Linked DNA regions of Homo sapiens: regions 2, 3 and 4 are each linked to region 1. Evidence: fine-mapped expression QTL. A gene starts in region 1. Each other region holds a variant in brackets. All regions are shown on one strand. Distances are between the middles of the regions.

Region 1 (5,143 bases):
ATAGGGGGTTAACTCCCACACAGGAGGAGAGCACCCTCTCCCCAGCTCTTAAGACTGGAGTCCTGAGGCCTGGCGCAGTGGCTCGCACATGTAATCCCAGCAGTTTGGGAGGCCAAGGTGGGCAGATCACCTGAGGTCAGGAGTTTGAGACCAGCCTGGCCAACGTGGTAAAGCCCCCATCCCTACTAAAAATACAAAAAAAAAAAGCTGGGCATGGGGGTGCACTCCTGTAATCCCAGCTACTGGGGAGGCTGAGGCAGGAGAATCGCTTGAACCTGGGAGGTGGAAGTTGCAGTGAGCCGAGATCACGCCTCTGCACTCCAGCCTGGGTAACAGGCTGTTTCAAAAAAAAAAAAAAAAAAAAAGACTAGAGTCCCGGCAGGGAGAGGCTGGGCTGTGTGTGGGGGCCAAGTTTGTAGGTTTGTAAGTGGAAGTTGAATAAATTACTAATGAATGATTCTCCTTTTCTCCATGAAGTAGAGGGTAAGGCACTTACTGAGAGCAAGGGCTAGGAGGGATATTTATGGGCACAGAGAGAAGGTCTGAGGAAATGTGAGAAGCCAGTGATCAGGGGATAAGTAACATCTACAGGAATTTTGACAAGTAAACCCATAAAGATTGAAATGAAAGTCGTGACACCATAAATTCCAAGTAGTGCCCATCTGCGGGGTAGCAAGATGAGTCTGGCTCTGCTGAGCAGTCTTGGGGTGAAGGAAAGAACTGGCCCAATGTGAGTGACCTCCAGTGACCCTGACTTGGTAGGAGTACTGAGACTGGATGGACTGAATGGCCATTCCTGACCACAGGCCCAGGCCCTGGGAGGTTTTCGGGAAGCCTTGCAATCAGACAGGTACCTGTTGCTGCACCCAGACTTCCTCGGATACATGAAGAACAGATTAGAGCCAAAGGCCCGTGACACGGTAGCCTAGGTCCCTCTCATCCTTGCAGCCTGCTGACAGTTGGGAGTCTGGGGCATGTCACAGCCTGCCGCATGTCACAGCTTGCCGAACAGTGGCCACTGAAGCACACCCATCTCATCCATCACTCACTGCCAGGGAGTGTTCCACTTAGAGAGCACGGGTGCTGAGCTTCCCAGCCCTTTCTGATGCTGGAGCCTGCTAGACCAGGGGTCCCCAATCCCAAGCCTGGTCCGAGACCTGTTAGGAACAGGGCATCGCAGCAGGAGGTGAGTGGAGGGGGAAGGAGCATTACCGCCTGAGCTCCGCCTCCTTCAGATCAGCCTCGGCATTAGAGTCTCAAAGGAGTGCGAACCCTTTTGTGAAATGCGCATGCCAGGGATCTAGGTTGCGGGCTCCTTATGAGAGCATCTTAACTCATGCCTGATGATCTGAGGTGGAACAGTTTCATCCCCAACCCCCCCACCCCCACCCCCCTCCGTGGAAAAATTGTCTTCCAGGAAACCAGTCCCTGGTGCCAATAAGTTTGGGAACCCGTTGTGCTGAACATTTCAGGTGGTCTCTCTGACTGGCCTCGTTCTGTGAAAGGAACTCAATGCGATTGAGGGGACTGGCCACCCTGGATGGTTACCAAATAAGCGCTGACAGCCTTAGCTCCCCCACGAAACCCATCACGGCAAGCTCCCCACCTCACCCCCTTTTCCCCCCTCTACCGCCAGCCCAGAGACTGAGCTGTCGGGTTTTGCTCCTCCACCCTGCCCGCCCCCTCCCAGCTGTCCTGGCGTCCGCAGACTGACAGATCTGAGGGTCCTTTGGAGGGAGCCGGGCACATCTCCTCCCGGCCGCCGCCCACCCGCCACAGAGTCTAGAGGCCGAGTGCCGGGCCCGCAGAGGGCAGAGCGCAGCCAGCGCAGCAGGTGGCGGCGTCTACCCGCGCCTAGCTAGCCCCGGACGGCGCGAGGAAAGCGCCCTGCCCAACCCGAGACTGGCGGCCTCCCGGGGCTGGGCTCTGGAGAGAGCGCAGTGGCAGGAGTGGCCGCTGCCGAAGTCCCCCGGGCAGGGGGCAGGGCCAAAGGAGCGCGCGCTCTGGGCGCCGGGACGACACTCCAGCCCCGGGGGACCCGCCGCCCAGCTCCCGAGGGTGCGGCAGCCTCTGGCCACTCAGCCGGGGCCGAGAGGGAGCTGCCGGGCGGGCAGGCGCCGCAGGCACCCGGCGGGCAGGGCGGGGCAGGGCAAGACGGCCGCCTCCGCAAGTGCCACCCGGCCCACCCGGTTCTCTCCCTTCTGCCTGGGACGTCAGCGGACGGGGCGCTCGCGGGCCGGGGCTGTATGGGGCTCCCGCGCGGGTCGTTCTTCTGGCTGCTGCTCCTGCTCACGGCTGCCTGCTCGGGGCTCCTCTTTGCCCTGTACTTCTCGGCGGTGCAGCGGTACCCGGGGCCAGCGGCCGGAGCCAGGTAGGGGCTGCCGAGCGCAGAGCGGGAGGGCGCAGGGGCGACCAGGGCGCGGGGAGGGTCCCCAGCCCAGGGCTCCCCGGCGGCCCGCAGCCCTCAGCCCAACCTCCGCGTGGACCCCTCTGGGGCAGCTCTCAGCGAGGACTCGGCCGCGGCCCTTTGTCGCCAGAACCCTCTCCCAGCCTTGACCTCGCGCTGCCCGGACCCCGCGGCCTTTGCCTGGGTCCAAGGAAGACCTCGCCCCTGTGCACTGGCGACCCGCCCCGGTGCCCCTTGTTGGTGAAGTCCTCCCCGGCCTGATAAGTACACTTTCTATTGTCGAAATCTGGCTGGGTCCCCGAAGCAGATAAAAACTTCCTTTTTTGTCGGGAACTCTCCCTCGGTAACGTCAGATTCTGCTTTTTGGGCAGGGGCCCAAGTCTCCGGTTTCCAACTTCGCGGGGACCCTCCGTCGGGCCGCGGCCAGTCGCCTTTCCCGCCCGCTGCGGTCTCTGTCCGCCCCGCGCCCGCTCCCTTCTCCCCGGCTTCCGCTCGCCGTGTCTGGATAAGCCCAGTGCGGGCGCGATCCGCGAAGAGGCGGGCGCCCGAGGGAAAGAGGGGTGACTCCTGGCTCCATCCGCGTTCTCCTCCCCGCGCCGCGTCCTGCGCTCCACTCCCTCCTCCTCCCTAGGCACTTTCCTGGGTGTCCCACGAGGAGAACCTGGGAGCCGGCCTCTAGCAGGTGGTGGTTCCGGTGACTGAAGAAGCCGCAAAACGATTTCGCTTAGCTTAAGAAAGGCGGACCAAGCCGTGCGAAGTCTGGGTTTGGGAGGAGGGAAGGGCCCGGCAGCCTCAGGGAGAGGCCTCCAGCCCCAGCCTTTCCCTTCCTGGAGCTTTTCCATCTGCGCACCCCCTACCAACCTTGCTGGGGGGCTAACGGGATGAAAACAAAATAAGTATCTGGTCTCCACAGATGCTGTCAAAGGATACACCAAAAGTTGCAGAACAATGTGAAACAGCTTGCCAGTGATCAGGAGTCCAGCACTCTTAGAACAAAGGGTGCTTGCCCCGCCACGGTGACTTAACGCCTGTAGTCCCAGCACTCTGGGAGGCGGAGGTGGGAGGATAGCTTGAGGCCAGGAATTCGAGGCTGTGAGCTGTGATTGCACTACTGCATTCCAGCCTGGTTGACAGAGAGAGACCCTGTCTCAAAAGAAAAGGAATCCTTGTCACTTTTATGTAAAGATGTTTAAAACACAAAGTATCTCAATGCAAAGAAATAATACATGTTTGATATAAGCCTGGGCAACATGGCGAAACCTCGTCTCTACCAAAAATACAAAACTTATCCGGGGATGGTGGTGCATGCCTGTGCTTCCATCTATCTATTCCGGGAGCTGACCAAGAAGATCCCTTGAGTCTGGGAGGTCGAGGCTGCAGTGAGCTGTGATCGCGCCACTGCACTCCAGCCTGGGCAATACAGCAAGGTCCTGTCTCCAGAAAAAAAAAAAAAAGTTCGAGGTGATGGATATGCTAATTAGCTGGTTTGATTATTACACATTACATACACGTATTGAAATATCACACTGTGGCCGGGCGCGGTGGCTCACGCCTGTAGTCTCAGCATTTTGGGAGGCCGAGGCAGGCGGATCACGAGGTCAGGAGATCCTCCTGACCTGGCTTTCACCTGGCTAACACGGTGAAACCCCGTCTCTACTAAAAAATACAAAAAATTAGCTGGGCGTGGTGGCGGGCACCTGTAGTCCCAGCTACTCGGGAGGCTGAGGCAGGAGAATGGCGTGAACCTGGGAGGTGGAGCTTGCAGTGAGCCAAGATCGCGCCACTGCACTCCAGCCTGGTGACAGAGCGAGACTCCATCTCAAAAAAAAAAAAAAGAAATATCACACTGTACCCTATACATATGTGCAAGTATGTGCCAATTAAAAATAATTTTACAAAAAGGAAGAGACCTGATCTAGCAACTCAGCCCCACTCTGCATGTGACGTCCTGCCCCACCAACACCAAGGCCCTCTGGCTGCCCTGGACCACTGCCTATGGGGTAGCCCTGCTCCACAAGGAGCAGAAAAGAAAAAAAAAAAAAAAAGGCCTTCACCAAATGTGGTTCCTCGACCTTGGACTTCCCAGCCTCCATAACTGTAAGAAATGAATTCCTTTTCTTATAAAAATAATCTTTTGGGGACAGTCTCACTCTGTCACCCAGGCTTGCAGTACAGTGGGTCTATCTTGGCTCACTGTAACCTCCACCTCCTGAGCTAAAATGATTCTCCCACCTCAGCCTCCCAAGTAATACATTATCTTCTTTTTTTTTTTGGGACAGAGTCTCCCTCTGTCGCCCAGGCTGGAGTGCAGTGGCCCCATCTCGGCTCACTGCAAGCTCTGTCTCCCGGGTTCATGCCATTCTCCTACCTCAGCCTCCCGAGTAGCTGGGTCTACAGGTGCCCGCCACCATGCCCAGCTGATTTTTTGTATGTTTTAGTACAGACAGGTTTTCACCGTGTTAGCCAGGATGGTCTCGATCTCCTGACCTCGTGATCCGTCCACCTGGGCCTCCCAAAGTGCTGGGATTATAGGCGTGAGCCACCGCGCCCAGCCCCGAGTAATACATTTTTTAAAAAACACAAATTAAAATTGTTTCAGGGTATCTAATAGACTTTAAGTATGAAGTTTACTATACTTCTATTATAATGCAACAATGCTTTTTTAAAAAAAAGATCTTTCCTCTTTTCAAAATGTAGTATGACTCAAGCACCTGGCCCTTTCCTGCTGTTTCTCTG
Region 2 (5,143 bases), 87 kb after region 1:
GAGCCAGCCAAGGTGGAAACAGGTGCGGGGGTGGGGATGAGGGACTCACACAGCAGGGCTGGACCGGAGCTCAGAAATTGGACCCAGGAGTCCTGACTTCTGGATGGAGGGGCTGGGGAAGGTTGGCCCTGGGCTTGCCTTTTACCTGTTTGGCCCCTCGGATGTTCCCCCAGGGCATTGGGATAGAGACGGATAAGTTCCCTAGGGTACAGACCCCGCCCCACTCCCACGCCAGGGCGCAAAGGAAGCCTAGGTTTTGGCCCTGCCCCATTCCATGAAAGATTAACGGAGGGGGCTCTAGGGTTGGAGCTACTGAGAGGGTGGCAGCGGGTGTGTCTGAGGAGCAGAAGGCGGTGGGGAGCTGACCCCACTTGGGGAGAGGCTGCTGTTGCCTGGGCGGCTGGCATCAGGCCCCCAGTGTGTGCCATTTGCTGGTAATATAATGAGACCAGCATCTGCCTTATTCGACCCTCACTGTCCGTAGGGCAGGCAGTGGAAAGGGAGGCGTGTTTTAGAGCTGTGGTTCTCAACCAGGGGCGACTTTGCCTGCCATGGGATATTTGGCAATGTTGGAGTCATTTTGGGTGTCACACACTTGGGAGGGGAAGTGAGTGTTGTTGTTACTGGCAGGTAGTGGGTAGAGGCCAGGGACGCTACCAGACATCTTCAGGGCACGGAACAGCCCACATAACGAGGAATTATCCAGCCCAAGGTGTTGGGCTGTGCTGAGGCTGAGAAACCCTGCGCAGCAGCTGGTCCATCAGGTTCCTTCTCAATGATGCTCCCTCACTGGGGAAACTACCTCAGTTTTCCAGAGTGGTTAGGGGAGGAACTTGGAATAAACCTGAATGAGATGAGGGGTAAGGCAGTGTGAGGGCACTTATTCCCCTCACAAGAGTCTTCCTTTGGTGCCATGAGACACCGCCTTTCCCAATCTCCACTGGCCCTGCAGGAAGCTGGTCTAGGTGCTGTGGGGGAGAGGTTGGGAACAGAGGACCCCCTTGCAGCCCAGGCCTGGGGTGCTTAACCCCAGGGCAATCTCCCAGGAAGGCTGGGCTGAGGCAGCCCTTGAGCTCAAATATCCCTGGGCTGGGAGGGTGGGCAGAGGGCGAGCTCTCTTCCCATAGATTTTCCCAAAGCTGGATTGCTGAAGCTGGCATGGTTGCCTGATACCATGTGACCTGCTGGAATTTTCCCTTCTGAACTCACACCTAACTCCTCCAATTATGTACACCTTTTGAAAGTGACATCCAAGGAGTATCAGGGCTCCTAATTCCTGGGGGGTCCCCAGGCTGCTTTTGTCCTGCAATAAAGAGGGCACCCTGGGTTAGCTGACGAGCCCTGGAGTGGGCCCAGCTGCTGATGGGGTGGAGGCACCCCTGCCCATGGTGTTAGCTGAGCAGAGGTGAGAGATGGGAGACATCAAAGCACAGGCCAGGTGGCCCCCCAGTAGGGATGACTCAGAGTTGTTTGTATTGGGCTGGAGGAATGTACTTCCAGTTTTCTGGCAACAAGGAGGGGTGGCTGGCACGGTGGGAGAGGATCGGATGAAGCAGCCACGTCCATGCCCAGGAGCTGGGGCCACCTCGCTGCCCTCCCTCCCTGTTTTCTTGCAGTAGCCATTATACCCATCCTGTTCACTTCTGGACCCAGCCTTCTTGCCTGGGAACCCTGGTGGAGGTTTCGAGCTTGGGTTCTTTTTGTTGGTGTTGGTGGCTTTTGTTTTTTTTGTTTTGTTTTGTTTTTGTTTTTGTTTTTTTGGTCTCTTGACTGTAAAAGGCTGAAGTGAAACTCCCACCTTTTCATTTGCACAAAAAACAAAAGTGGCCTCCATTGCTGTGAGCCTCTCAAGGGACAGGGCTGAGCACCCAGGCTTGTACAAAGTTGTTCAGGAAGTCGGCAGTGGAGCTCGGGTGTGAACCCAGTTGCCCACCCTCAGGCCCCACCCAAGAGCCCCACGAACAAACCCTCAGTGACTCCTACCTGTCTGTACCTGGTGTAACCACACACACACACAGACACACACAAACAGACACACAGAGACACACACAAACACACAGACACACACAGACTCACACACACACACACACACACACACACACACACACTCTCTTTCTCTCCAGCCCAGGAGGGGGACTTTTGTTCCTATAAGAGGAGGAATAAATCACACTACAAATGCTTTGGGTGACGCACTTGGGGCCCGAGTCCTGCTCTGGGGTCAGTGGTGCTGTTTTTCCTGTGGCCTCAGCTCTGGATACTGTGGTGGCCTCTCCACCAAGGTTTCTGTCCTTGCTGTGTAAACTCTGCCCCAGACAAGGTGACAGATGACAGCAGAAGTC[AAGG/G]AGCTGTGCACGCCTGCCCGTGAGTGTGCGAGTGGCATGGCTCAGCTGGCTGGTGCTTCCCTTTGGGCCTGGCCCCCGCCTGCCGCTGGCACAGCACAGGGAAGACGTGTGCCCTCCTGGCTGCCTCTCCCCCTCCACACTCTCCTCAGATCTCTGTGCCTCGCACTCTGGAGCAGGCCTCGGCGCTGCCCCATCTGCCCCAGGGGATTTCCAGAGTGAGCTCAGGCATCTGCACCGGCTGTGGAAGCGCTGGCTGTCGGAAGCGGCTCCCAGTTTCCTATCCAGCTGAGCCAGGCTGGGGGAGGAGTGGCGGGGACGTCTGCGCCTGCCCAAGTACAGGCTGACCTCGGCGGTGGTGGTGGCTAGGCAGGGACAGCTCTCAGGGCACGGGCGGCTTCACAGGGAAACCAAGCCTGCCCGGAACGTCGTTTTGCCTCCCAGGAGACCTAGGATGGGTGTAAGGAAAAACACATCTTCCGGGAAGTACAAAGCGCCACCGTGTCCACGGCCCCTCCTTCAGCAAATGTATCCGGGCGCCCAGCTGGGAGTTGTTTGTGGTCCAAAAGCTACTGGAAGGCAGTTCCAGCCCCAGTGCCCGGCTCCTGCAGGAAAGTGGTTTCAGCCAAGTGGGCAGTGCAGGAGGTGGGCCAGAGACACTGTTTGGAGTGTGAGGGGAACCTTGTGACCAGCAGAAAAGGATGGAGGAGGATTCCAAACTTCAGGAGCTGGGCCAAGGTCCAGGGGCTGCTGGGCACAGTCGTCCATGTGTGTGCTCAGTAGGATGAGTTCACTTAATTAGTCTGTGCCTCAGTTTCCCCAGCTGCACAGTGGGCTCACTAACAGTAATCTACCTGGAGGGTTGTGTGAGGTGAGGACTCCCGTGGTAAAGGTGTGCAGCCTGCAGTGCAGTGCCCGGCCATGGCAGGAGCAGTGCGGGGAGCCATCGTGATAATGGTGTTAGGGTGGCTTCAGGTAGGGGCGTGGCTGCCGGTCCATGGCACAGACTTGGGAGATGGCCGAGGCCCTGCCTCGTGGGCTGTCAAGGACTAGATGGGAACACGCATATGGAGCAGTGGCACTGTTGTTATTGTTATTCTGTAGGAGTGGCTGTGTCTGGGGTAGGGGGACCTCAGTGCCTTGCTGGCCAAGGGAAGTGAGGGTGGGTTTCCATCTGGGCATGAACTGCTGACCTCTGCCCAGGGGTTTTCCTGGCCTGCCAGTGTGTGTGTGTCACTGACAGTGGGGTGGGGGGCAGCTCATGGAGTTGGTGCCCCTCAGCTGTGCTTTCCCTGGCGTAGGTTCCTGGGGCTGGGAGCAGGGTAAAGCTGCCTCAAGTCTTGGTTTTCTCCTCTGCCTCCCCCGTGTGGCCGCCAACCCTGTGCCAGCAGGTGGTGCAGGGATGGCTTCCTGCCCCGGTCTCTGGCAAGAAACCCTTTTCCCTCTCCCAGTGGGTCTCCCCAGGTTGTCAGCTCCATTTAGTCATAAGAAGATCTGGGGCCAGGCGCGGTGGCTCACGCCTGTAATCCCAGCACTTTGGGAGGCTGAAGCAGGCAGTCACAAGGTCAGGAGATCGGGACCATCCTGGCTAATACGGTGAAACCCCGTCTCTACTAAAAATACAAAAAAATTAGCCAGGTGTGGTGGCATGCACCTGTAGTCCCAGCTACTCAGGAGGCTGAGGCAGGAGAATCGCTTGAACCCAGAAGGCAGAGCTTACAGTGAGCCGAGATCACCCTACTGCACTCCAGCCTGGGCAGCAGAGCGAGACTCCGTCTCAAAAAATAAAAGAAAAAAAAAAGAGATCTGGAAGAGGAGGGTTGAGGATCTGCTGTGGGGTTTGGAGTGGGAACAGGACTTTGAACCCTGGCCTAAGCCCCTTTTGACCTTGCCAGCCCGTGAGGATGATGACAGCCGCCTCTCACCCTTAGCCTCAACTAAATGAGATCATGTCTGTAAAAGTCCTTTGCAAGCTGAGCAGTGCTGCCCAGGCAGTTAGGTGCTGTCCCTTCTTCATGAATCAAAGGCCTTTGCATGCAGGACTCACTCCAGCACCCCAAACACTCAGAGTCCTCACCCGTTCTTTTTCTCCTGCCCCTCACCAGTTCCAGGGTGGCAAGAGGCTGCAGAGTGTGGAGGTTAAGAGCGCGGGACCCTGGCTGGGGTTGTAGCCCCACCACCTCCCTAACTGTGGGACCTTGGACAGGTGACTTCATCTCTCTGAGCCTCAGTTTCCCCACCTGTCGAATAGAGATCTGTCCCCTGTGGGGCTCGTGGCTCAGATAGAGACTAAGTGAGCGATGGTGGCAGAGCTCAGCCAGGAATAAAAGAAACTTCCAACTGGGCGTTGGGTGTGTGCCAGGCACTGTACATTCATATCTGCTGTCATCTTCCCTGGCTCCCTCCGTGGTGGGGCATCAACCCATCTCACAGCAGAGGAGGCAGGCTCTGCAGCACCCACTTGCCCAAAGTCTCCCAGCAGGTAGGTGGCCCAGGCAGGTTTGAGTCCCATCTCTGGCCCCTTATTCCTCCTCATTCCTCAGCAAGAGAGCTCCACGCTGCCCCGAAGCAAGGTGTGGGCCATAAGCACGTGGCTTTGCAGGCCTGCTTGGGACAAGCAACCTGGTGTCCCCGTGTCCTGAAACCCTGGCAGTCACTGGGGCTAGGGCCAGCCTCTTCCCTGGGAAGCAGGGAGCCCCAGGGCAACGTTCTGGGAAATCAGGTTTATTAGTTCCTTAATGACCGTTTACAAGCTCAGAAGTGTCTGCCTGGCATTTTCCCTCCCTGCTGAGGGGCTCCATGCA
Region 3 (5,143 bases), 20 kb after region 1:
ACTTAGTAGCTTGGGGTGAAAACAAGCTGTTGCCAAAAGGGGGAACCTGTGGTTCCTTTCTCACCACCCCCTCCCCCAACCTTACCTAAGGTCTCAAAGATCTTTGTATTTAGTCCACTTGGACCGAATAAAGAACTGACTGGAGTAGAAGGCCCTCAGTTTTTGAAGTTTTCCCACCTATTTGAATGTGTAGTTGTGAAGTGTGATGATAGCCATCAAGCTAGTGAGCTGAAATGTCTCTTTTTGCTTCCAGGTTCTTGAAATCAAAGTTGATTAACACACATTTTGGAGACCTATATATGCCTAGTACCGGGGCTCTCATGCTGCTGACAGCTTTGCATACCTGTGACCAGGTAAGAGGCCTTCTCTTCCAGAAGCCCATGCCGGCAGAACACAGGATAACAGAACCCAACAGGATCCCCTGATATCCCTTACCTCGGAGCTGGGACTCTTGGCCTCTGTTCGTGGAATCCCCAGTTCCAAGAGTGCTGCTGGTACTGCTCACTTCCTTGCCCACAACCCTGGGGCCTTTGAAGGACAGGTCCTGGGCCAGCCTTGCCTTGGCTCCGGACACCTGCCTCAGGCTTGCCTTGGCTCCTGACACCTGCCCCAGGCTTCCTTCTTTCACTCTTCTCCAAGGCAGCCACTCAGTATGGTATTTAAGGCTCAAATCATCAAACTGCCCTTGTGAAAGCCAAAGTCCTCAACATACTGGGCCAAATAGGGACATTCTTTTATGGGGACATCCTAGAGCTGGGGTAGGGCAGCAGGTTTAGCCTCCCACATGCAACTACTTTGAAATCACCGTTAAGAGTCATTCCTGATGGGATATGACCCACGTGAAGCTCATGGAGGCAGGGGCCAAGCAGCAGCTTTCAAGGAGAGGCCGTGACCCATGCTAAAGCTGGTATGGAGAGCTGGGGGCCAAATGCCTCTCCACGACTCACACCTAAATCTTTTCCCTCTTTTTTGAGACAGGGTCTCAACTCTGTCACCCAGGCTTAAGTGCAGTGGTGTGATGATCCTCCTGCCTCAGCTTCCCAAGTAGCTGGGTAGCTGGGATCACAGGCATGTACTGCCACGCCCAGCTCTTTTTTTTTTTTTTTACTTTTTGTAGAGACAGGGTCTTACCATGTTGCCCAGGCTGGTCTCAAACTTCCAAGCTCAAGTGATCCTCCCACCTCAGCTTCCCAGTGTTGGGATTACAGGCGTGAGCCACCACACAGGGCCTTTTCCTATTCTGATGCAGGAGTGTCTTGACTGCAGTCCCCAGTTAGGATGGAGAGAGTAGTAATGGGCTTTTGCCTCCACCCTTGAGTTCCAAATCCAGCTCTGGCAATCACCAGCTATGCCAAGTGGGGACACAGTGAGTCACCCCTGAATCCATCTCCCCACTTGCTAAGTGGGAATAAGCCCTAGACCATTATCCTCACCTCAGCAGACGGACACCTTTCTAAACTCATGTCACTTCACCCAAGTGTCTGTACACACTAGACGCTCAACAAATACTAATCCAGCGACTATCCTTGCCCAGGTCAGTGCCTATGGATTCATCACAAGCAACTACTGGAAATTTTCCGACCACTATTTCGAACGAAAAATGAAGCCATTGATATTTTATGCAAACCACGATCTGTCCCTGGAAGCTGCCCTGTGGAGGGACCTGCACAAGGCCGGCATCCTTCAGCTGTACCAGCGCTGACCCCAATGCACTGAGCCCTTTGCTTCTTCAAGAGTTGCGGCCCTGATCCTCTCAAGTGGCCAAAAGCTTTTTTAACTTTTCAATCTTCACCTTCCCTTGCCAACAGAGGGCACTGGGGTGAATTCAAGATTTTCATCGAGGTCTGTTCAATATAGGACACCCCAGCTTGTCCTTGGCTCATCCAAGAACTCTTCTGTATCTAAAACAATACATCTCAATCTTGGCCAAGGGAAAATGGACTGCTTTGCTGGATTGGCACTGAGCAACTTTAGGAAATGTCGGTGGAGTGTTCAGCAAGATCAGACAGCAGTCCAGGTCAAAGGCAAACACACACGCTCCAGCCCAAATCCTCCTGGTGGCACATCCTACCCCAGATGCTAAAGTGATTCAAGGACTCCAGGACACCTCTTAAGAGCCTTTCTAAGAACATGATAGGCTTACTTCTGCTCCATAATAAAGTGGGAGAAAAAAGCCAGAATATAACTTAAGACTAGATAACTGCGTACATGATGGACCATTTTTTTTTTTTTGGCTGGGTAGAGAAATCATATAAAACGCAGGCTGTTTAGCATGGAGATGACTCTCAGAACACTGGGAGGGTCTGGCACTTGATGGGGGTTAGTTGCTTGGCAGCCTGCCTG[CCACTGAGGGA/A]AGTCCCATTAGAGATGTATCACCACCTTGTCACCAACAGGATGATGTCACCAGGTAATAAACCTTCATCCTCATATCATGGCGTCAGTAAATTTGAACTCAGCTGACGGTAGTTTCCCAAGTTTATTGTAAGTGGTTTTAAGTTAAGTCTCATCCAAACAAGTTATCACACAGCACTTAACCAAGCCCTGGGATTTACTGTCTTGATGACTACACGGCTTTGCACAGTCTGAGATGCTTCAGTGTGCAAGGCAGCAGCTGGGGGGGAGGAGGGGGGTCTTCACAGGGACAGCTGGCAAGAGACTTCCTGAGGCACATCAGTTACGTTGGTCAATTTAGGGCACGGTCTGGTTCTGCAGCTTTGAAAGGTGGATTCTTTCTATTAGCACACTTTACAAGAGGGATTGTAAAGGATTAACTCAGTCACCAGAAACGAAACACCACTTCAGAAATTCAGAGACCTCTGATCAACAGAACAGACATTTGGGCTTTAACTGCTAAAGCAGCTACCTACTTGGGGAAACCATGGCATTCTGCTGCCTGGACAGCAGGAATTAAGAGAGATTTCAGAGTTACTGGCACGAGGACAAAGCCTCTCAGCTCGCTTCACCTTGGCAACCTTAAACAGTCCCTCCTTGGTCTCTATGATAGCAGTATGTTCCTTTGGATGGAATACTTGGTTTGGAAATAATGTAGTCAAATGTAGGATATGTAAGTACTCCTCAACAGTCACAATCCATCCTAGTATCTTAAATAGTGATTTTTTTTTTTTAATTTACAAAAGAGGTTTATTGGACTTACAGTTCTACATGGCTGGGAAGGCCTCACAATCATGGCGGAAGGTGAAAGCCACATCTCACATGGCAGCAGATAAGAGAAAAAAAGGTAGTGATCTTTTAGTAAAGAAACCTGAGACTGGTAGTGGGCTTGGAGCCAGAGGATCGCTTAAGTCCGGGAGTTCGAGACCAGCCAGGGTAACAAATTGAGACCCCCCCCCAACTTTAAAATTAAAAAACGAAAGAAAAAATAGCTGGGTGTGGTGGCTCACACCTGTAATCCTAGCACTTTGGGAGGCCAAGGCGGGTGGATTGCCTGAGCTCAGGAGTTTGAGACCAACCTGGGCAACATGGTTGAAACCCTGTCTCTACTAAAACAAAAAAAATCAGCCAGGTGTGGTAGCGTGCACCTGTAGTCCCAGTTACTTGGGAGGCTGAGGCACAAGAATTGCTTGAACCTGGGAGGTAGAGGTTGCAGAGATCATGCCACTGCACTCCCAGCCTGGGTGACAGAGCAAGACTGTCTCAAAAACAACAACAACAACAACAACAAAACAAAACAAAAAAAACCTCTCAAAAAAATGAAAAAAAATTTAAATTTAAATTAAAAAAAAAAATGCTGGGTCTGATGGCTCACACCTGTCATCTCAGCACTTTGGGAAGCTGAGGCAGGCAGATCACAAGGTCAGGAGATAGAGACCATCCTGGCCAACATGGTGAAACCCAGTCTCTACTAAAGAAGGTACGCGCCTGTAGTCCCAGCACTCAGGAGGCTGAGCCAGGAGAATTGCTTGAACCCGGGAGGTGGAGGTTGCAGTGAGCCAAGATTGTACCACTTCACTCCAGCCTGGCGACAGAGTGGAACTCCGTCTCAAAAAATAAAATAAAATAAAATAAAATAAAATAAAATAAAATAAAATAAAGCAAAAATATAAAATGTTAAAAAAAAAACAAAAAAAGGGAAAAAGGAAGCTGATTGCCTTGGTGAGTCAACACTGGGTATTTTCTGACCACTATTTGAAACAAAAAAGGAAACCACTGATATTCTATGCAAAGATCTGTTCCTGGAAGGCACTCTGCGGAGACACCAGGAGAACTTTTATCAATCCTTCATTGATTTGAAGTAAAAGTGCTAAAGCAATGGTTGTGGGTGGCAACCCATTAGCAGATCACAAAATCACTGTAGTGGGTAACTAAACAAGAGGAAACACAAGACGGCATCCTGTGTAACTGGGGTTAAGCATTACTCTCTGAAACTCATGGCATCAGTTTCCTCTTAGGCTCTTCCAACAGAGTATAATCATGTTCATTTCAGTTTACAATCCTTGCAGTCCCATCGATTTGTGAGATTATACCCAGGTCATCCACAGTGGAGGTCTGAAAATGTTCTTAGTTGTACTCTAATTTCACTAACTGCCAAAAGGTTTTCCAGAATAATCTCAGTTGCTTCATTCCTTTAAAGATGAAGCCCAAAGAACGCATGGCGATTACTTTAGAGGAACAATTAGCAGCAGAGGCAGGGCTGTGCTGATCCCATCTGGCATCGCTGGGAGCTAACCTATAAAACAGAAGAATAATTTGAAGTAACAGCCAAGGAAGTGACTCAAAACTGAATGCTATATAACAACTAATTTGGGAGAACAGGCAGTCAGTCCAAGAGCACTCACTCTCACCACCGGCAGGCATGTGCGCGTTGGGGGAGCGTAACGGGGCACTATCACACCATTTTGGTGCAGGCTGGTGGAGATCCAGGATGACTCATTTTAAGGAGACAGTATCTCTGAGGGAGCAGTTTCTGGTAAGAGGCCAGTAAACAACTATCAGAAAGCACTCCCTCTGGATAGAAACATTTCAAGTCAAATCTTATGGTTTACTTGAGTTCTGTAGTCAAGTCCACTCAGCAGACAATAACCACTTGATAAGCTACCCTTTTCACTGTTTTACTTGCAGGCTGTAAACTACTGGGGCCAGTTTTTAGGCTCATTAAATCTCACCCAGAATACAGCTTCTTTGG
Region 4 (5,143 bases), 41 kb after region 1:
GCAATGACCCTGGCCAACACCAGCCCACTTGCAAAGGCAGGCTGGGCGGGACCACAGCTCCATTCCTTGTGCCTTGTAGACAGGTCACAATCAAAATTTCCTCACGGCCCCCAACTCGAGACTTGGGCCCCCTCTATCCCAAGCTTTGGTGTCAGATTTCCCAGGCTCAGGTCCTGGCTTCACTGCCAGCTATGAGTGACCTTGAGCAAGTTCTGTGAACCTCACTTTCCTTATTGGATAAATGATAACAGTTCCTGCCGCATAAATGAAACAGTGCGTAAAATACAGCAGCTGGCACAGTGCCTAGCACATAGTAAGCGCCCAATGCATGTTAGTGGTTATTAATCATACGATTAGTATCATCATTATGTTAACATAAGCTTCCGTGCGAACCAAACTGTTCTTCTGAGGTTCACAAAGAAGCATTATCTTCCTCTAGCTCTAGGTCTTGGGCTTCTTCCTAACAGTGAGGCCCCCCACAGAGAGGCTACGGGAGCCTGAGGAACCAGCAGGGTTTGCTCTCTCGCCATTGTGCCTGTCTCATAGTGGGCACTGTGCCCTACCCATCTAGTCTTGGCCCACCACCTGTACTGTTTGCCCTTGCCCAGGACTGCGCGCACACACACACACACACACACAAACCACACACACACACAACCGCACACTTGGAATGGGTGGGTACTCCCCAAGGTGACATCTACACCCCAGGGTGACAGTGGACAGCCACAGCTGCAGTGGCTACTTCCCTGGCTCCCACCACACCCCCACCGCCTCATTAGTTCCCTGGTCATGCTCCAGTCTCCAGGAGAGACTGGCAGCCGCTCTGAGCCTCAGTTGCAGGAGCAGCACCTCCCTGCTCCTGGTTGCTGCCCTCAGCCGCCCTGCAGCTCCAAGCAGCCTTTCCCCGTCACTCAGGCTCCCCCAGCAGAGATATTAGCATTCACACGGAGGAAGGTACCACAGCAGGGCAGCGCCTCCCGTCTTGTCAAGGAGCTGAGGTTCATTCCGGAAGCAGAGCCAGCTGGGAGTGGCGCTGTCCAGGTCGAGGTCACCACTGGAGGTTGGGACATGGTTCTGGGCACAGAGAGGCAGTGGTGGTCTTCTCCAGTACAGGCTTACAGGGGGCTTCCCCACCCCAGCAATGCCACCCTCTGCCATCCTCTGATCTGTTGCAGAACTACCGGTCGCCCAGCTCTGTGTATGTGGAGAGACGGCAGGAAGGACCAGAGAGTGAGGATGTGAGGAACTCTAGCCGTCCTGAATCTACCACTGTTCAGTAATTTACAGTTCAAACCGGATTGTGCCAGCTCACATATATGGGACACTTACCCAACATGCTAAGCATCTTCCACACGTTATCTAATCAACCCTTACAACTCTAAGAGACAGATACCAGTAGGATCTCCATCCTACAGCTAAAGAAACTGAGGCACAGAGGTGTTCAGAAACTTACCCAGGCCACAGAGGTAGGATGTGCTGGTGGAACAAGGTTCAAACCCAGGAGCTCTGACTCTGGACACCTTGCTCTTGGACTCTTGTTATTTCACAGTAGCCAGCACCCTAGACCAGAAGGGACCCCACCCTTTGGCTCAGCTCTCCCTCTCTAGCTGCCCTTTATCTGCCCTCTCCCAAGCCCCTGAGCACTCCTGCTCCCATTCCCAAGCAGCGGCTCTTTGCAAGGAAAGGGATGAAAAAGGACTCAGCCTCAGTGGGGACAGTGTCATAGTCAGGATTTAATTCCCCCATTTAAAGGTCCACCCTTGCCCTGAGCTTCACACTAAGCCCTGTGATGGGAGCCAGTGGGCCAAGGAAGGGGCACCCGGGTCCCAGGAGCCTTCTGTGGGGAGCTCTAGGCTGAGAGAGGTAACTTTCTGCAGCAGGAGCTGCAAATGTGCAGACTGCGCAGAGAGCCCAGGGGTGGGAGAGGCCCCGGGAATAAGAGGCGAGCGTGGGCTGGGTGTGCGGGGAAGGTGTAAACACAATCTGCTCCCACCAAAGCCAGCCTGCTCCCTGGGGGAGACAGCCCCCCCACCCGGCCCACA[T/C]GGCACCCCAGCTGCCCAGGCAACCTCCAAGCCCAGGCAGCCACAGCCCCGCTGGCCGCCAGCAGCCCCTTCCTCTCTTTTTCCCGCCCTTCCTCTGGATGGATCCCTGGAGCAGCCACCACCTCCTGCGCAGGTTCTCGGAACAGTGGCGTGGAGGGGCGCTGCCCTGGGGAAGTGCGTCTGGGCCGTGAGCCAGCTCCATGACCTTGGCCTGACAATTCCTCAGACCAGTGGAAGGAGATGAGCAACTCGGAAATGGCAGCAAGGATGAGGTGACAGGAACATGGCAAATAGAGAATAAATGCAGATAGGATCGGGGAACACAGACTGGGTCCCGGGAACAGTGCCCTCTGGCCCTCAGCCTGACAGGCCTGTCACCAGGAAGGCCGATGCCTCCAAAGAGAGAGACAGGCTGACAGGAGCTGAGACAGGCGATCACGGGCTCACGGCCTGGGTCAGGCTGGCGCTCTGGCTTTGCCTCTGCAGGCTCCTTCCCTAGTGTGACTTTCCCCCTGCCTCCTGCCTGCCCTACTTTGAGAGGCTCCCACAGAACTGCCTTCGCACACACCCCAGCCAGGCTCCCCGAGGTACCAGCAGGCCCTCCCCAGCGGGGTGCACCTCCTCCCCCACCCTGAGCGCCTCCCCAGCGGTTCCCTCTGCTCTGCGGCATCCCTCACCCTTTCCCTTCCTTCCCTTCAGAGGCAGAGTGGCGGCTGAAGTGCTGCTGTCTAGAGAACTCCATCTTCTACTGCCTGGAAGTCAAGGGCACGGGCCAGCCAGGCAGAGACATCGCCGCTGGGCTGGGAGGGGGGCTGGCTGGGGAGGAGAGACGCGTGTGCACAGAGGCACGGGGGGTTTTTGAAGACTAATAGCTGTGAGACATCAGGAGCAGCTGCCTGCAGGGTCTGCTCCTGGATCTGGGAGCAGAAGCGGAAATCTGCTTTTATCTCTGCTCAGGATCATGCAGGATTGAAAAGAGAGAAATGGCAGAGCAGCTGGGGGCAAAGGAGGCAGCCGCCGGGACTGAGCATCAGCAAATTGATAAAAACAAGTGTCAGGCTTTTTCCTTCCCACACGCTACTGCCCGTTTGGAACACACGCGCTTGCACACATACAGAAAACACATTCGGAGGACAAGCTGTCCGTTGCTCCCATCCAGCTGCAGGCAGACATGTCACAGATCCAACTGGCATTTCTTATTGATAATTTCAGCAGAGCAGCCAGTGACAGGATGAGCTCTGGGAACTGGGGAAAGGCAAATGACACAAAAGCGAGTGCCACTGTGGCAAACCGACACCAGCACCTCGGACCACAAGTGGCGGCTTAACAGAATAGCTCCTGGGCTGACAGGCAGTTGGCCAGGCCAGCAAACCACCCCCAACCCCTGCAAACTGTTAGGTTCCAGGGGGAGGCCGCCTGCCATGGTGGGTAGGAGCGTGGGCTCTGCAGCTCCAGTGTGAGCCTGGGAGCCTCCACTTCCTAGCTAGGTGATGTTGGGCAAATTATTTAACCTGTCTCTGTGTTTCCCCATTTAGAAATTGTGGATAATAACATTACCAGGCTCTGTGGGTGACTGAAGATTAAATTACAGAATGAATGGAAGCCCTTGCTTAGTAAATGTGAGCTATCAGCCGTCCCTTGCTTCTGGGGTCTCCTCACTCCTTACTTATTCCTGCCTCTTGCCTGGGCTGCTGGCTGCCCCAGAATTAGCCTGGTGGACCCAGCAAGTCCCTCATCCTAGGCTTTCTCAGGCTCAGCAGTCCCTCAGAGGAGCCTCAGGAACTCAGAGGGAAGGAAGCCCGTCCGAGAGCAGCGAGCACGTCTGCTCTTTCTGCCAGGCCCAGCCAGGTCCTGCTCAGGAGCCCACACCCAGGGCCTGGGGGAAGGGGAGACTGGCAGGTCCCGGGCTGAGAGGGAGGCGTCTACCTTCTCTAGTGCTGCTTCCCCCCATTCTCCCTCTTGCCGCTGCTGCAGCTCCCACAGCATCCTCCTGGGCTAGGGGACGAACCAGGACCTGAGCTGAAACAGAAAACCAGAGCAGATCAGCACTTCTCCCACACCTGGGGATGGGACTCGCATTTCAGAGTGGATGTTTCCGAGCACCGCCTCTCCCTTGGGCGTCCTCCGACACTGCCCTCATGCCCCAGCACGACCACCTCGCCATCCCCAAGCCTAGAAAATGTGGTCAAACTACACCTGGTTCTCTTCAAACTCATCCTTGCCCCATGGCCCGGACCACAACAGGCTCAAGGTAGCAGCCAAAGGCATGAGTCCATCCGCCTACTTTGAACCTCCATCAGTGGCAAGAGCTGAACACTGCCTGCTATCCTCCCACATGGCCGGGACTTGCCTGTTGCTTCCTGCCTGTCCCAAGCCTTGCCCTCTGCCCTCCCCGGCTCCCAGCCCTGCCCTACCTGCCTGAGCCAGCTGATCCCAGTCTCTGGGCCTGAGCCCCACCTGCAGAGGTGAGGGCTTACTTCAGAGGTTCTTTCTCCCTAAACAGAGGAAAGCACTGGGGTCAGGATTGAAGGGCACGACCTTCCCATGTTTCTGACTCTCCTCTTCCTCCTCCTCCCATCCCTATCAATTCACCCCAATATTGAGGGGCAGGACCACCTAAGGAATCAGTTGGCATTTAGGACAGTGTGACTGGAGAGTAGAAATGTCACCCCCACTGCCAGCCTTCCACGGCAGCCACCATCGGCAGGTGGTTCCTCGATGTCAGACCAATTTTTCCAGTTAACTGGGTCCCAAGGAGTTAATAGGCAACTGCTTCCTTCTGGCTAAGTCACGCCAGGCCAGGCCTGGCCAGATGGTCCTCAGATTTGGCCTTTTCTCTCCTGCCAGGAGGTCCAGGCCCATTTCATGTAGAAGAGACCCTGCCTGGAATCGGGCCTGAGCATCCCGCATTAGCCACAAATGAGATAGATGATCTGGAGCAAGCCACCTAAATCTCCCTGTCCCTCAGTTTCCACAACCATTAACCAAAGATTAAAAACACATGTCCTGCCAATCCTCTGGGGTTACTGAGCCTCCCGAGTGACTTAATAGGTAGGAAACCTCTGGAGAAAACTAAAGCACAGGTCCCGAGCATGAAACAA

Evidence for each region.
Region 2: its variant is fine-mapped to the expression of ST6GALNAC2 in whole blood (INTERVAL, PIP above 0.99).
Region 3: its variant is fine-mapped to the expression of ST6GALNAC2 in whole blood (TOPMed, PIP above 0.99).
Region 4: its variant is fine-mapped to the expression of ST6GALNAC2 in blood mononuclear cells (TOPMed, PIP above 0.99).

The regions. Positions count from the first base shown.
Region 1 is chr17:76,582,912-76,588,054 of GRCh38, reverse strand. ST6GALNAC2 (ST6 N-acetylgalactosaminide alpha-2,6-sialyltransferase 2) reads left to right here and starts at 2,195. Exons shown (of 9, transcript NM_006456.3): 1 at 2,195-2,371. The coding sequence starts at 2,247. RefSeq lists enhancers at 528-1,208, 1,209-1,890 and silencers at 1,759-2,048, 2,099-2,438.
Region 2 is chr17:76,495,755-76,500,897 of GRCh38, reverse strand. All of the region lies in intron 1 of RHBDF2 (rhomboid 5 homolog 2), which reads left to right. Among named protein-coding and RNA genes, the nearest start is that of RHBDF2, 3.1 kb to the left of the region's middle. RefSeq lists an enhancer at 1-217. The variant AAGG/G (reference allele first, on the strand shown) is at 2,340.
Region 3 is chr17:76,562,663-76,567,805 of GRCh38, reverse strand. ST6GALNAC2 (ST6 N-acetylgalactosaminide alpha-2,6-sialyltransferase 2) reads left to right here. Exons shown (of 9, transcript NM_006456.3): 8 at 254-353; 9 at 1,535-2,429. The coding sequence ends at 1,702. SNHG16 (small nucleolar RNA host gene 16) reads right to left here. Exons shown (of 3, transcript NR_038111.1): 3 at 2,458-4,687. Among named protein-coding and RNA genes, the nearest start is that of SNORD1A, 3.6 kb to the right of the region's middle. RefSeq lists enhancers at 47-547, 548-1,048. The variant CCACTGAGGGA/A (reference allele first, on the strand shown) is at 2,344.
Region 4 is chr17:76,541,947-76,547,089 of GRCh38, reverse strand. It overlaps PRCD (photoreceptor disc component), which reads right to left. Exons shown (of 5, transcript NM_001077620.3): 3 at 4,457-4,537; 4 at 3,969-4,061; 5 at 1,714-3,287. The coding sequence ends at 4,516. It also overlaps a transcript of CYGB not described here. Among named protein-coding and RNA genes, the nearest start is that of PRCD, 4.5 kb to the right of the region's middle. The variant T/C (reference allele first, on the strand shown) is at 2,043.